3 linked regions of the Homo sapiens genome follow. The protein of the gene in region 2 interacts with the protein of the main gene of each other region in a pairwise test. Each region holds a gene or a part of one and is shown on either strand. Other genes may lie near its edges.

Region 1 (3,275 bases), on a different chromosome or scaffold from region 2:
GTTTTTTGTTTTTTTTTTTAAGACACAGTCTCACTCTGTCTCCCAGGCTGGAGTGCAGTGGCACAATCTCCACTCACTGCAACCTCCGCCTCCCGGGTTCAAGTGATTCTGTGCCCGGCCCAAGAAGATTGTTCTTTATTGACTTAGGATGCAGTTGGGACTGGGTCAACCTAGGCTGCTACCCGTGGAGGGGTGGCAGGACAGAGTCAGGATCCTATCGGGGGAGGGCAAGGCAGAGCTGTAGAGAAGGTAGGAAGGAGAAAGAAATCAAGGAGAAGAGGTATCCTGGAGCCCTTCGAAGCAGCTTGGCCATGCATGCCAAGGCCACTCAGCAGCTGCACACTGGTGGTGGTGTGTAGGTGACTCCCAGAGTGTTTGTTAGGTCCATGGCCTGCAGTGTTTTTCAGTGTGAATGAGGTGTGTGGCAAGGCACTTTCAAGGTACCCAGTCCCCGCAGAGGTACTTGACCTCCCAGGTCTCCCAGCCTCCCTTACAGTTAAGGGTGGTCACACCAAACAGTCTGGCTAGTGAAACAAACACAAGTCTGCTGGTGGCTCTGGGCAGGCAACTGCTTCTCTTTTATTATGAATATGATTTGAATCTACCCACTGCACACTGAGGCTACTGCCTCTCTTTATAAAAAGGAAGGAAGAAATTTCCGTTTCCCGCAGATGTGATGTAGGAAGCTACAACTGCCAACTCCTGAGCATGAGGGAGGGGACAGGAGAATCACTGAGGCCCTGACCCCAAGGCAACCGAGACTTAGCTGTGTGCCCACAGCTGCCCTCGCCAGGCTTGTTTTGTGAGGGAATAATCCTTAGTGCTTAATCCATTACTGGGGGAGTTTTGCTATTGTTAAGAAATGTCAGCATTAAAAAACTAGGAGACTTCACATAAAAATACAGGGATGTGGATCCCCTGTACTCTATCTAGGGTAAGCCTGCGCAACAGTGGACTAACAATGGGGATCCCAGTGGAGAGAGGGCCAGGGGATTTATTGAGCTAGACACTGCTCTGAGGGGCAAGTAGAGCCTCTCACACTGGAGGGGGCTGGAGGTAGCAGAGCTGGAGGTGGGGCCAGGTGGGAGGTGGGGACGGGCCAAGCAGCAGGACAGAGAGCAGCAGCAGCAGCAGCAGGCCCAGGACAGGAGCTGGGATCAGTGGATGTCGAGTGACTCTGGTGGGGAGGTGGGAGAGCATTTAGGGCAGGGTCTGGGCAGCCCCTGCTCTTCCCAATGTCAGACCACCTCCTTCCTTCTGGAGACGCCTGGGGGCACACCTGAGCCGCTGTGGGGGCAGGCAGAGCTGGCCCCAGGCCCTCCTCCTGACTGGGACCAGCTTTTTCATCACAGGCACCAGGGCTTGCTGGAGTTCCCGCCGCGCAGGTCTGCTGGGGTGAAGGAGGGAATCACCACTGGGTTTTTCCTTGCCCCAGTGTCCCTCCTGGACCCTGTGGGTCCTATTACCTCTCTGGAGGGTTTTCTGGGATGTCTCCAGGGCGAGGGGCTCCTAGAGGGACAGGGAGATCAGCCTGCAAGGACAGAAGAGATGCGTTGGAGGCACCGGGTTCTGGACTGAGAGGTGCTCAGGTCAGCCCACTGGACACAAGTGGCCACATAGAAAGTGGTGGAGCTCAGGAGATAAGTGAGTGCACTTCTGCTGCCAGGTCGGGTTCCCATTTCTGCCAGCTTCTGGCTGAGGGTCCTTGGCATGTCACCACACCTCTCCGTGCCGCTCTTTCCCCATCTGCTGGCCAGGGATGTCCCCACCTCATAGGGTTAACATGGAGACTAAATGAGTGAATGTAGGAAAAAAAAGGCGGGGGCAATAGCTTGGACAGCGCCTGGTACATAGTGAGTGCTCAATGTCTGTGTGAGCTATTCAATATCATCACCTCCGTTTTCCATTGGATTCTGGAAGTATCTAAGCTCTCTGAGGGCAGAGACCACATCTTCTACAGGTGCCCACCCCTGTGCTGGGCCTCATGAAGAATCCTGTCTTCCTGCCTATGCCAGAATCGGCAGGCGCTTTACTAATTAAAAACATGCCATTACAGGCCAGGTGCAGTGGCTCATGCCTGTAATCCCGGCACTTTGGGAGGCTGAAGCGGGCGGATCACAAGGTCAGGACATGGAGACCAACCTGGCCAACATGGCGAAACTCCGTCTCTACTAAAAATACAAAAATTAGCCGGGCATGGTAGCACGTGCCTGTAATCCCAGCTACTTGGGAGGCTGAGGCAGGAGAATGGTGTGAACCTGGGAGGTGGAGCTTGCAGTGAGCCGAGATCGCACCACTGCACTCCAGCCTGGCGACAGAGCAAGACTCCATCTCAAAACAAAAACCAAAAACAAAACACCATGCCATTATAAATGGTATAATTACAAATTTATTTTTCTAATTGCTCATGGTTGCTATACTGAAATATGATTTTTTATTTTGATCTTTCACCCAGCAACCACACTAAATTCACTGATTAATTCCAACACTTCATCTGAGGATTCAAAGATCAAAGCCCCAGCTGTTCCTCCAGGGCCAGGCCCCACCCACTGCACCGCCTCATCCCCCATGTCTCCCCGGAAGGGCCTCCCCTCTATGGGTCTTTGGCTTTCCTACCCCCATACCTTTTTAACACAGATGAGGATGATGAATGACAATGATAATGGCAGTAAATAAAAACAGAACACCAATCACAATCAATATCTTCACCTCTACCACCTGCTGTGCCAGGCAGGGACCCAGGCCCTTTATGACATAGTCCTTAACCCTCCTCCCCACCCTGGGAGCAAGGAAGAGATTATGCCCATGTGAGCTGTGAGGAAGCTGAGGTGGAGCCCCAGTCTCTGCAAGGGAGTGTAGTATGTTGAAGGAGGTGGGCTTCGGGGCCAGGGTGCTGGGAGCTGAGTGTCCTGGAGGCAGCCATCTTGGCCGGTTTGGACCCTGAAGAGCCCCAGGGGCCCTGACAGTGCCTGACCCACAACAGGCAGACTCCAGCCCAGCTCCTGCATTCCTCAGCTCACAACTGAGGGCTCCTCACCTCTCCTTACCAAGTTTCTTTCCCCGTCCTTGCCTGAGAATGGAAATCTTAACCCCCACCGGGCACTGGGCTCTGAGGAGCAGAGGAACTGGCCTGTGTGGCTGCAGGCAGGGGGGCTGCGGGCACTACGCCCCCAGGGAGTTCTGAGGCTGGCTGGGGAGGGCCGGCCCAACCTCTCCCGAGTGTGGGCGCATGTGCGTGTGCATTTATGCAATCCGGGGGTGTAGCCACGTCTATG
Region 2 (3,617 bases):
CATCATAAGGGTAATTAGCCAGTAGTTTCTTTTGTTTGTTTTGTGTGGCGGAGCCTCACTGTGTTGCCCAGGCTGGAGTGCAGTGGTGCAATCTCAGCTCACTGCAACCTCCGCCTCCTGGGCTCAAGTGATCCTCCTGCCTCAGCCTCCCGAGTAACTGGGACTACGTGTGCGCCACTATGCCTAGCTAATTTTTTGTATTTTTTGTAGAGAGGGGGTTTTGCCATGTTGCCCAGGATGGTTTTCAACTCCTGGGCTCAAGCAATCTGCCCGCTTCAGCCTCCCAAAGTGCTAGCATTACAGGCGTGAGCCACTGCACCCAGCCCTGAGCTTTTGTGTGGTAAAAATATGAAGTATAGTGCAACATGATGGTTCCAGAAAGACTAACAATGTCCTGGTGCATAATTAGGCAGCAGACTGCCATGATTCCAGAGGAATTAATAACCATCTGTAAAACTGCAATTATTTTTCTTTTGGATGGGCTATAACACCAAAAGAGAGGAAATAGAGGAAAGCAGAAGTATTGGCACAGAAAGTTCATAATTAAGTATTTATCCACCAACCCATAATAGCTCGGGTGCTAGCTATTCCAATCAGCTTATGTAACATGTGAAACCTTGGTACTGTTTCTTTCCTTCCTCCCCTGCACAGACAAGTTAAATTAACAAGGATTTTCTCCATGATATTCCTTGCTGATATGAATATCAGTGCACTTACCAAATAAGTACTTGCCTCCATTAACATTATAGTCTAAGACAGACTGATGAAGACAGAGTGAAATAGAAAGGACAATGAGAAAATTACACATTGAACAAAGCACCTTATAAAATTAGGATTAATCTGACTTCTCTAGTATCTGTTACTCACAGATGGGTAAAAGGATGTGTCAACTCAATTGCCTCACACAATAGTGGGGATAGTAGGATACAGAATAGGATTCTCTGAATATATCAGTTCTCCTCTCTTCACCAATACACATAAGTGATGTAAGGTTTTTGAGAACGGGAGATGAGTCTTTAGTGTTTTTATATCTCCCTGGCATGTTTAGGACAAAGTGCTGGAACAACATATGTAGGATGGCTAGCACTTTTCGGTAGATTAATCCCAGGAGATCCCTGGAGAATTCCAATTGTAGGTCAGAAGGTAGGCATTGCAGGATTCTACCAGGAATCTCTGTCAAGGGGATTTTGGTATCTTCCTCTTTGGTACAGACTCAAGGAGCATGTCAAATCCCACAAGCATGAAGGAGAAAAGCTTTCTCTACCCCGGCATCTCAAAGTAGTGGGCCAGATTGAGCACCTAGTGATCACACTGGGCTCCCTCCGCCTGGACTGCCCAGCAGCTGTGGTTGGTAAGCAGAATTGAGGGCTGGACCTATGGACCCTAACGGAAACCCTCTCCCTACCCCCAACAAAACCTCATGTCATCTCATGCCTGTAAATATTGACTTTTTCAAAATGGTTCCCATTTTTTTGTACTGTAGACCTTGTCCCAATTTTTGCTCTCCAAAGTAATAGATGGGCCCTGAGCTACATTCAAGACATGTTGAGAATCAATCAGTAAAACAAATGTGGTCAGATAAAAAAAAAATTCGGCCGGGTGCGGTGGGTCATGCCTGTAATCCCAGCACTTTGGGAGGCCGAGGCGGGCGGATCACAAGGTCAGGAGATCGAGACCATCCTAGCTAACACGGTGAAACCCCATCTCTACTAAAAATACAAAAAATTAGCCAGGCGTGGTGGTGGGCGCCTGTAGTCCCAGCTACTCGGGAGGCTAAGGCAGGAGAATGGCGTGAACCTGGGAGGCGGAGCTTGCAGTGAGCTGAGATCGTGCCACTGCACTCCAGCCTGGGCGACAGAACAAGACTCCGTCTCAAAAAAAAAAAAAAAAAAAAAAATTCAAGGAGCAAGAGGCCGGGCGCAGTGGCTCACGCCTGTAATCCCAGCACTTTGGGGGGCCAAGGCGGGCAGATCACCTGAGGTTGGGAGTTCGAGACCAGCCTGACCAACATGGAGAAACCCCGTCTGTACTAAAAATACAAAATTAGCCGGGACTGGTGGCGCATACCTTTAATCCCAGCTACTTGGGAGGCTGAGGTAGGAGAATCGCTTGGACCCGAGAGGCAGAGCTTGCAGTGAGCAGAGATCGCGCCATTGCACTCCAGCCTGGGCAACAAGAGCGAAACTCCGTCTCAAAAGAAAGAAAAAAAAAAGGAGCAAGAAAACACATTTTTATGTATAGGTGAAAATGTCCCTTGAGAGCTTTCCATGAACTAGTTAGAGACAGAGAGCAACTTACTTACTCCTTTGCCATAAATCCCTTGATAATTTCCCACCAGTTTCCACACTTCTCTACATTTTACTCTTGACTACTCCAAGTTCTTGGTTTTTGTGTAAAGGCCTTTGTCCTTTAGAGTAAAAAAGACCTGGGTTTGAATCTTGGCTCTATTGCCTTGTAAGTTTAATGATCTAGGAAAATTACTTAATATAACACATGCTCGGCCAGGCGCGGTGGCTCATGCCTGTAATCCCAACACTTTGGGAGGCTGAGGCGGGTGGATCTCCTGAGGTCAGGAGTTCGAGAGAAGCCTGGCCAACATGGCAAAACCCTGTCTCTACTAAAAATACACAAATTAGCCAAGCGTGGTGGTGGGTGCTGGTAATCCCAGCTACTCCAGAGGCTGAGGCAGGAGAATTGCTTGAACCTGAGAGGCAGAGGTTGCAGTGAGCCGAGATTGCGCCACTGCACTCCAGCCTGGGCAACAAGAGCGAAACTCCATCTCAAAAAATAAAAAAAAAATAAAAAAAAAATAACACATGCTCAATATATGTTTATTGGATGTTATTGGATGGATGGATGGAACCTAATAGTGATTAGGCCAACTTCTAAGCAAGCATGGAAATGGCTAAATCTTAATCATTTTTTTGTTTTTATTAGATGACAATGAGAAAAACTTGTCCCTTGGTCTACAGACTCTCCGATCTCTGAAGGTAAGATTGACTCCACTTACCCCTTGATACTTCCTCTCTGAGGCAGGTATCCTCTTACACAGGAACTCATAGTGGTATCACTGACAAGTTACCTGTTTTCAGTGCATCATAAACTTGGATAAGCACCGGCTGATCATGGGGAAGACAGACAAGGAAGAAATCCCTTTTGTGGAGACAGTCTCTTTGAATGAAGACAAGTGAGTGCCCAAATGGGTCAGATCAAGTCACATCCATTTGTCATCAGCTGCGAGCAGGGTGGTGGTGGTTCTCAGACAGGACATGGGGTTGTATCCTGTCTTTGGCTTTCAATTATACTACAAATCCACCCTTCCCCACACCCAGAGTTCATCACCCCACAAAACTCTGTAGTGCACACATCAGAATGAGCAATGGTGATGCCACACAGAGTGGTAGGGAAATGACTAGCTTTGAAAGCAAAATTTTACTTGCCTTCAGCTTAACTTTTTTTGAATTTGGCATTATTTCTCCTGATATTTATTTCTCATTTCAGCACTTCAGAAGCATAACTACAGCCTGCAGCATGTCTGCACGTGTGCATGCATACACACCGGGTTGACAGATAGAGAAAACTGGGTTTGAACCAAATGCCGTAGTGACTTGCTGTGG
Region 3 (3,654 bases), on a different chromosome or scaffold from region 2:
TATTTTCTCCCATTCTGTAGGCTGTTTCCTCTGTTGATAGCTTCTTTTGCAATGCACAAGCTCTTTAGTTTAATTAGGTCCCAATTGTCAATTTTTGTTTTCATTACATTTGCTTTTTTTTTCCCCCTGCTCTGAGACAGGGTCTCACTCTGTCGCCCAGGTCTATGATCCATTTGGGGTTAACTTTTATGTATGGTGAGGTAAGGGTTGAAGTTTATTTATTTATTTACTTTTGCATAGGCTATTGAATTGTTCCAGCACCTTTTGTTAAAAAGACAATCATTTCTCCACCAAATTGCTTTTTTACCTTTGTCAAAAATCAAATGACCTCATATGTGTGCATCTATTTCTGGACAATTTGTTCTATTTCATTGATCTGTATGTTGATCTCATCAGATTGTAAAGTCTTTGAGATATGGGGCTTATAGTAGTTTCAGATCTCCATTGCCTAGCATGGTGTTTCCTTCATCTATATGGATGTTCGATTAATATTATTCGAATGACTGAGTGAGCCAACAAAGATGCACAGAAAGTGAGGAAATACATTCAACTTTCTGGAACACTAAAGGTCTAAGGGGTGTTCAAGATTCATCTAACAGGCAAGGGCAAGATCAAACTATGAAAGCCAGTCTGAAGGATAACTAACATATTTAGACTTTCAGAACCTGGTTCCTTGGGTTCAAGAGCTGAGTAGAAAGCTTTTGTTAAGTCAAAAGATGTCCTGTTTTGATATTACCTGCCACCTATTGGTAATATGCAATTGCCCTTGACGAAGAAATAACTTTCTGAATTTCTGATATTTTAACTCCATCCATTATAAATATATAATTTTGATTTATCTTAGCTACTTAAAAGGAGGCCCTGGTTGAGAGGACTTCTGAAAGTTACTCCCATAATTTCCTATTACTGTCTAATACAAACTCTCTGCCTAGCCACCATCTCTTGGGCGCCCCCAAACATGCCATACTTGTTCCTAATTCCCAACTTTTGCTCTTGTTCTTCTTTCTAGTGAGCTCTTTGTTCTCTGCCATTCTAAATCTGAGTCTAATCCCAGCTCTTCCACAAAGACTTCTTTAGTTTTTCAGGCCCACACCTTTGTCCTTCTGACCTCGGTCTGCATGACTTAACTAATTACATAATCAGATAATCTGGTATACTCATGTTATTACTTAACAGCTTTGTGTATTTTATATGCCTTGTCTTCTTAATGACACTAGAAATGACTGAAAGATAGGATTCTAGGAATGGGAGTTACATTTTGTCCTCCATAGCATTTAGCATGTGAAATGGTTCCCATAGCAGATTATTTACCTCTTGTTTAATTGAATTTAATAAAAATCACCCATTGGATAAATGCCTTTGAGAGTCAATTAGACATCATTCTTTTAACACTACCCTTCTAGTTAAAGGAATTATGTAGCTGATGGGAACATAGCCTTTTCTGTACCTCATGACTGATACCTTTTTTCTTTTTTTGAGATGGAGTCTTGCTCTGTTGCCCAGGCTGGAGTGAAGTGGCGCAATCTCCGCTCACTGCAGCCTCTGTCTCCTGGCTTCAAGCAATTCTCCTGCCTCAGCCTCCTAAGTAGCTGGGACTACAGGCACCTGCCACCATGCCCAGGTAATTTTTGTATTTTTTAGTAGAGAGGGGGTTTCACCATGTTGGCCAGACTGGTCTCGAACTCCTGACTTCAGGTGATCCTCCCACCTTGGCCTCCCAAAGTGACGGGATTATAGGCTTCGGCCACAGCGACCAGCCTGTTTCCTACTTTTTAAAAGAACCCTATATATGCCACCAGGCTGCCTCTCCATGCAACTTTGATAAAAAATTTTTAATTGGGAAATTATAGAAGAGGATAATTATATATTAAGTTTTCAATATAGGTCACATTGATAAAGCAGAGACAAACCTGGAATCTGTCATTTAAAGGGATTTAGTTTCAGTGAGACTTTTCATGCCACCCTGAATATATTCCTATCCATTTTCTTTATCTATTGTAAATCTAATGTTTGTTAGCTCCGAACTGCATGGATTTCAGGCTTGTTTAAGCATTCTGAAAGGCCAAAATTACTATATTAGTCCCATTGTCATTGAACTCTAAGACGGTTCTGTAGAGAACTGATTATAAGAATATGTATAGTAGGTAGAAGCCAAACTATGTTGAACTAGGGCACAGATCCAGTTGTTTCTATTTGAGAATACAAGCTGAATTAGCAGTATTTTCATTTTTTTAAAAAAATATATAACATAAACTTTCCTAATTCTAAAATGATGACAATTTTCACTCCCTTTTATCCTTTTCCCCAATCTCATTCTCCTCTCCTCACATGCAATCATTCTAATGCAGCTATGTGACTGAATGTGTCCTACGTGTACTATGTTTTGCATGTGTTATAGCATTATATATCTAATTTCATGTATTTTTTCCTACACAGCACTATGTTTTTAAGATCCATCCACTTGCTTTCTGTGTACATCTTGTTTACTGCTTCTAACTACTGTATATTAATCAAAATGTACCTTCACTACATTTTTGCTTATCCATTCTCTCAATGATGGAAACCTCCAACTCCTTGCCCACAAATAATACTGCATTTTTCATAAAAAAGCACTGTGCAAGTGAAGCAATATGTACAGACACGTTGAATTTAGCCTCAGACTACACATTTATTTATAACCTCTAATGTAGACAAACTTCTTGCTCAATACCTGAAATTTCTTTTTCTTTTTTTTTTTGAGATGGAGTCTCACTCTGTCACCCAGGCTGGAGTGCAGTGGCACGATCTTGGCTCGCCACAACCTCCACCTCCCGGGTTCAAACAATTCTCCTGCCTCAGCCTCCTGAGTAGCTGGGACTACAGGTGCACGCCACCACGCCCAGCTAATTTTTTGTATTTTTAGTAGAGATGGGGTTTCACCATGTTAGCTAGAATGGTCTCGATCTCCTGACTTCATGATCCACCTGCCTTGGCCTCCCAAAGTGCTGGGATTACAGGTGTGAGCCACCGTGCCCAGCCCCAATACCTGAAATTTCTTATATCCTAATTCCCAAAAAATATAGTAAAAAGAAAAAAAAATCAGTGAACACATTTACAGAATCCTGTCAGCCACCCAAACATAAGAGCTATCAGTCATTACATGTGACCAAGATGACATTATTCTAAGAGAAATGTAAAAACTACTAAGACAATAACTAAAGCAAGCCTACTCATCCCAGGAAACAGTGAACAGCAGGTATTTGCTGCCATTTTGTTGCACTGCCACTCTCAAATATGGTAGGTAACTTTTTTTCTTTTTCTGGAGATAGGATCTCACTGTTGCCCAGGCTGGAGTGCAGCACCACAATCACAGCTCACCGCAGCCTCGACCTCCCAGGCTCAGATGATCCTCCCACCTCAGCCTCCCAAGTAGCTGGGAATACAGGTGTGCGGCACCAAGCATGGCTAATTTTTGTATTTTTTGTAGAGAGGAGGTTTCATCACGTTGCCCAGGCTGGTCTCAAACTCTTGGGCTCAAGCAATCCACCCGCCTCAGTCTCCCAAAGTGCTGGGATTACAGGAGTGAGCCATCATGCCCAGCCCATGCTAGGTAATTTTAAACCAGTAAAGAATGAGCTGGGTTTGACACAATGGACCTCACCTCTATGAGTCACA

Evidence for each region.
Region 1: the proteins of NRIP3 (region 2) and KASH5 interact in binary tests that used the Homo sapiens proteins (3 or more experiments, as listed by UniProt).
Region 3: the proteins of NRIP3 (region 2) and EFHC1 interact in binary tests that used the Homo sapiens proteins (3 or more experiments, as listed by UniProt).

What each region holds. Positions count from the first base shown.
Region 1 is NC_000019.10:49,415,271-49,418,545, reverse strand, and holds the end of KASH5 (protein KASH5), read right to left. Parts: intron 2,873-3,275; exon of another isoform or gene 2,388-2,872; intron 1,532-2,387; coding exon 1,467-1,531; intron 1,391-1,466; coding exon of another isoform or gene 1,388-1,390; coding exon 1,280-1,387; intron 1,178-1,279; coding exon 1,036-1,177; coding exon of another isoform or gene 995-1,035; 3' UTR 556-994; downstream 1-555. UniProt on the Homo sapiens protein: As a component of the LINC (LInker of Nucleoskeleton and Cytoskeleton) complex, involved in the connection between the nuclear lamina and the cytoskeleton.
Region 2 is NC_000011.10:8,983,445-8,987,061, reverse strand, and holds part of NRIP3 (nuclear receptor-interacting protein 3), read left to right. Parts: intron 1-1,211; coding exon 1,212-1,351; intron 1,352-2,937; coding exon 2,938-2,990; intron 2,991-3,092; coding exon 3,093-3,187; intron 3,188-3,501; coding exon 3,502-3,517; 3' UTR 3,518-3,617.
Region 3 is NC_000006.12:52,454,737-52,458,390, reverse strand, and holds part of EFHC1 (EF-hand domain-containing protein 1), read right to left. Parts: intron 1-3,654. UniProt on the Homo sapiens protein: Microtubule inner protein (MIP) part of the dynein-decorated doublet microtubules (DMTs) in cilia axoneme, which is required for motile cilia beating.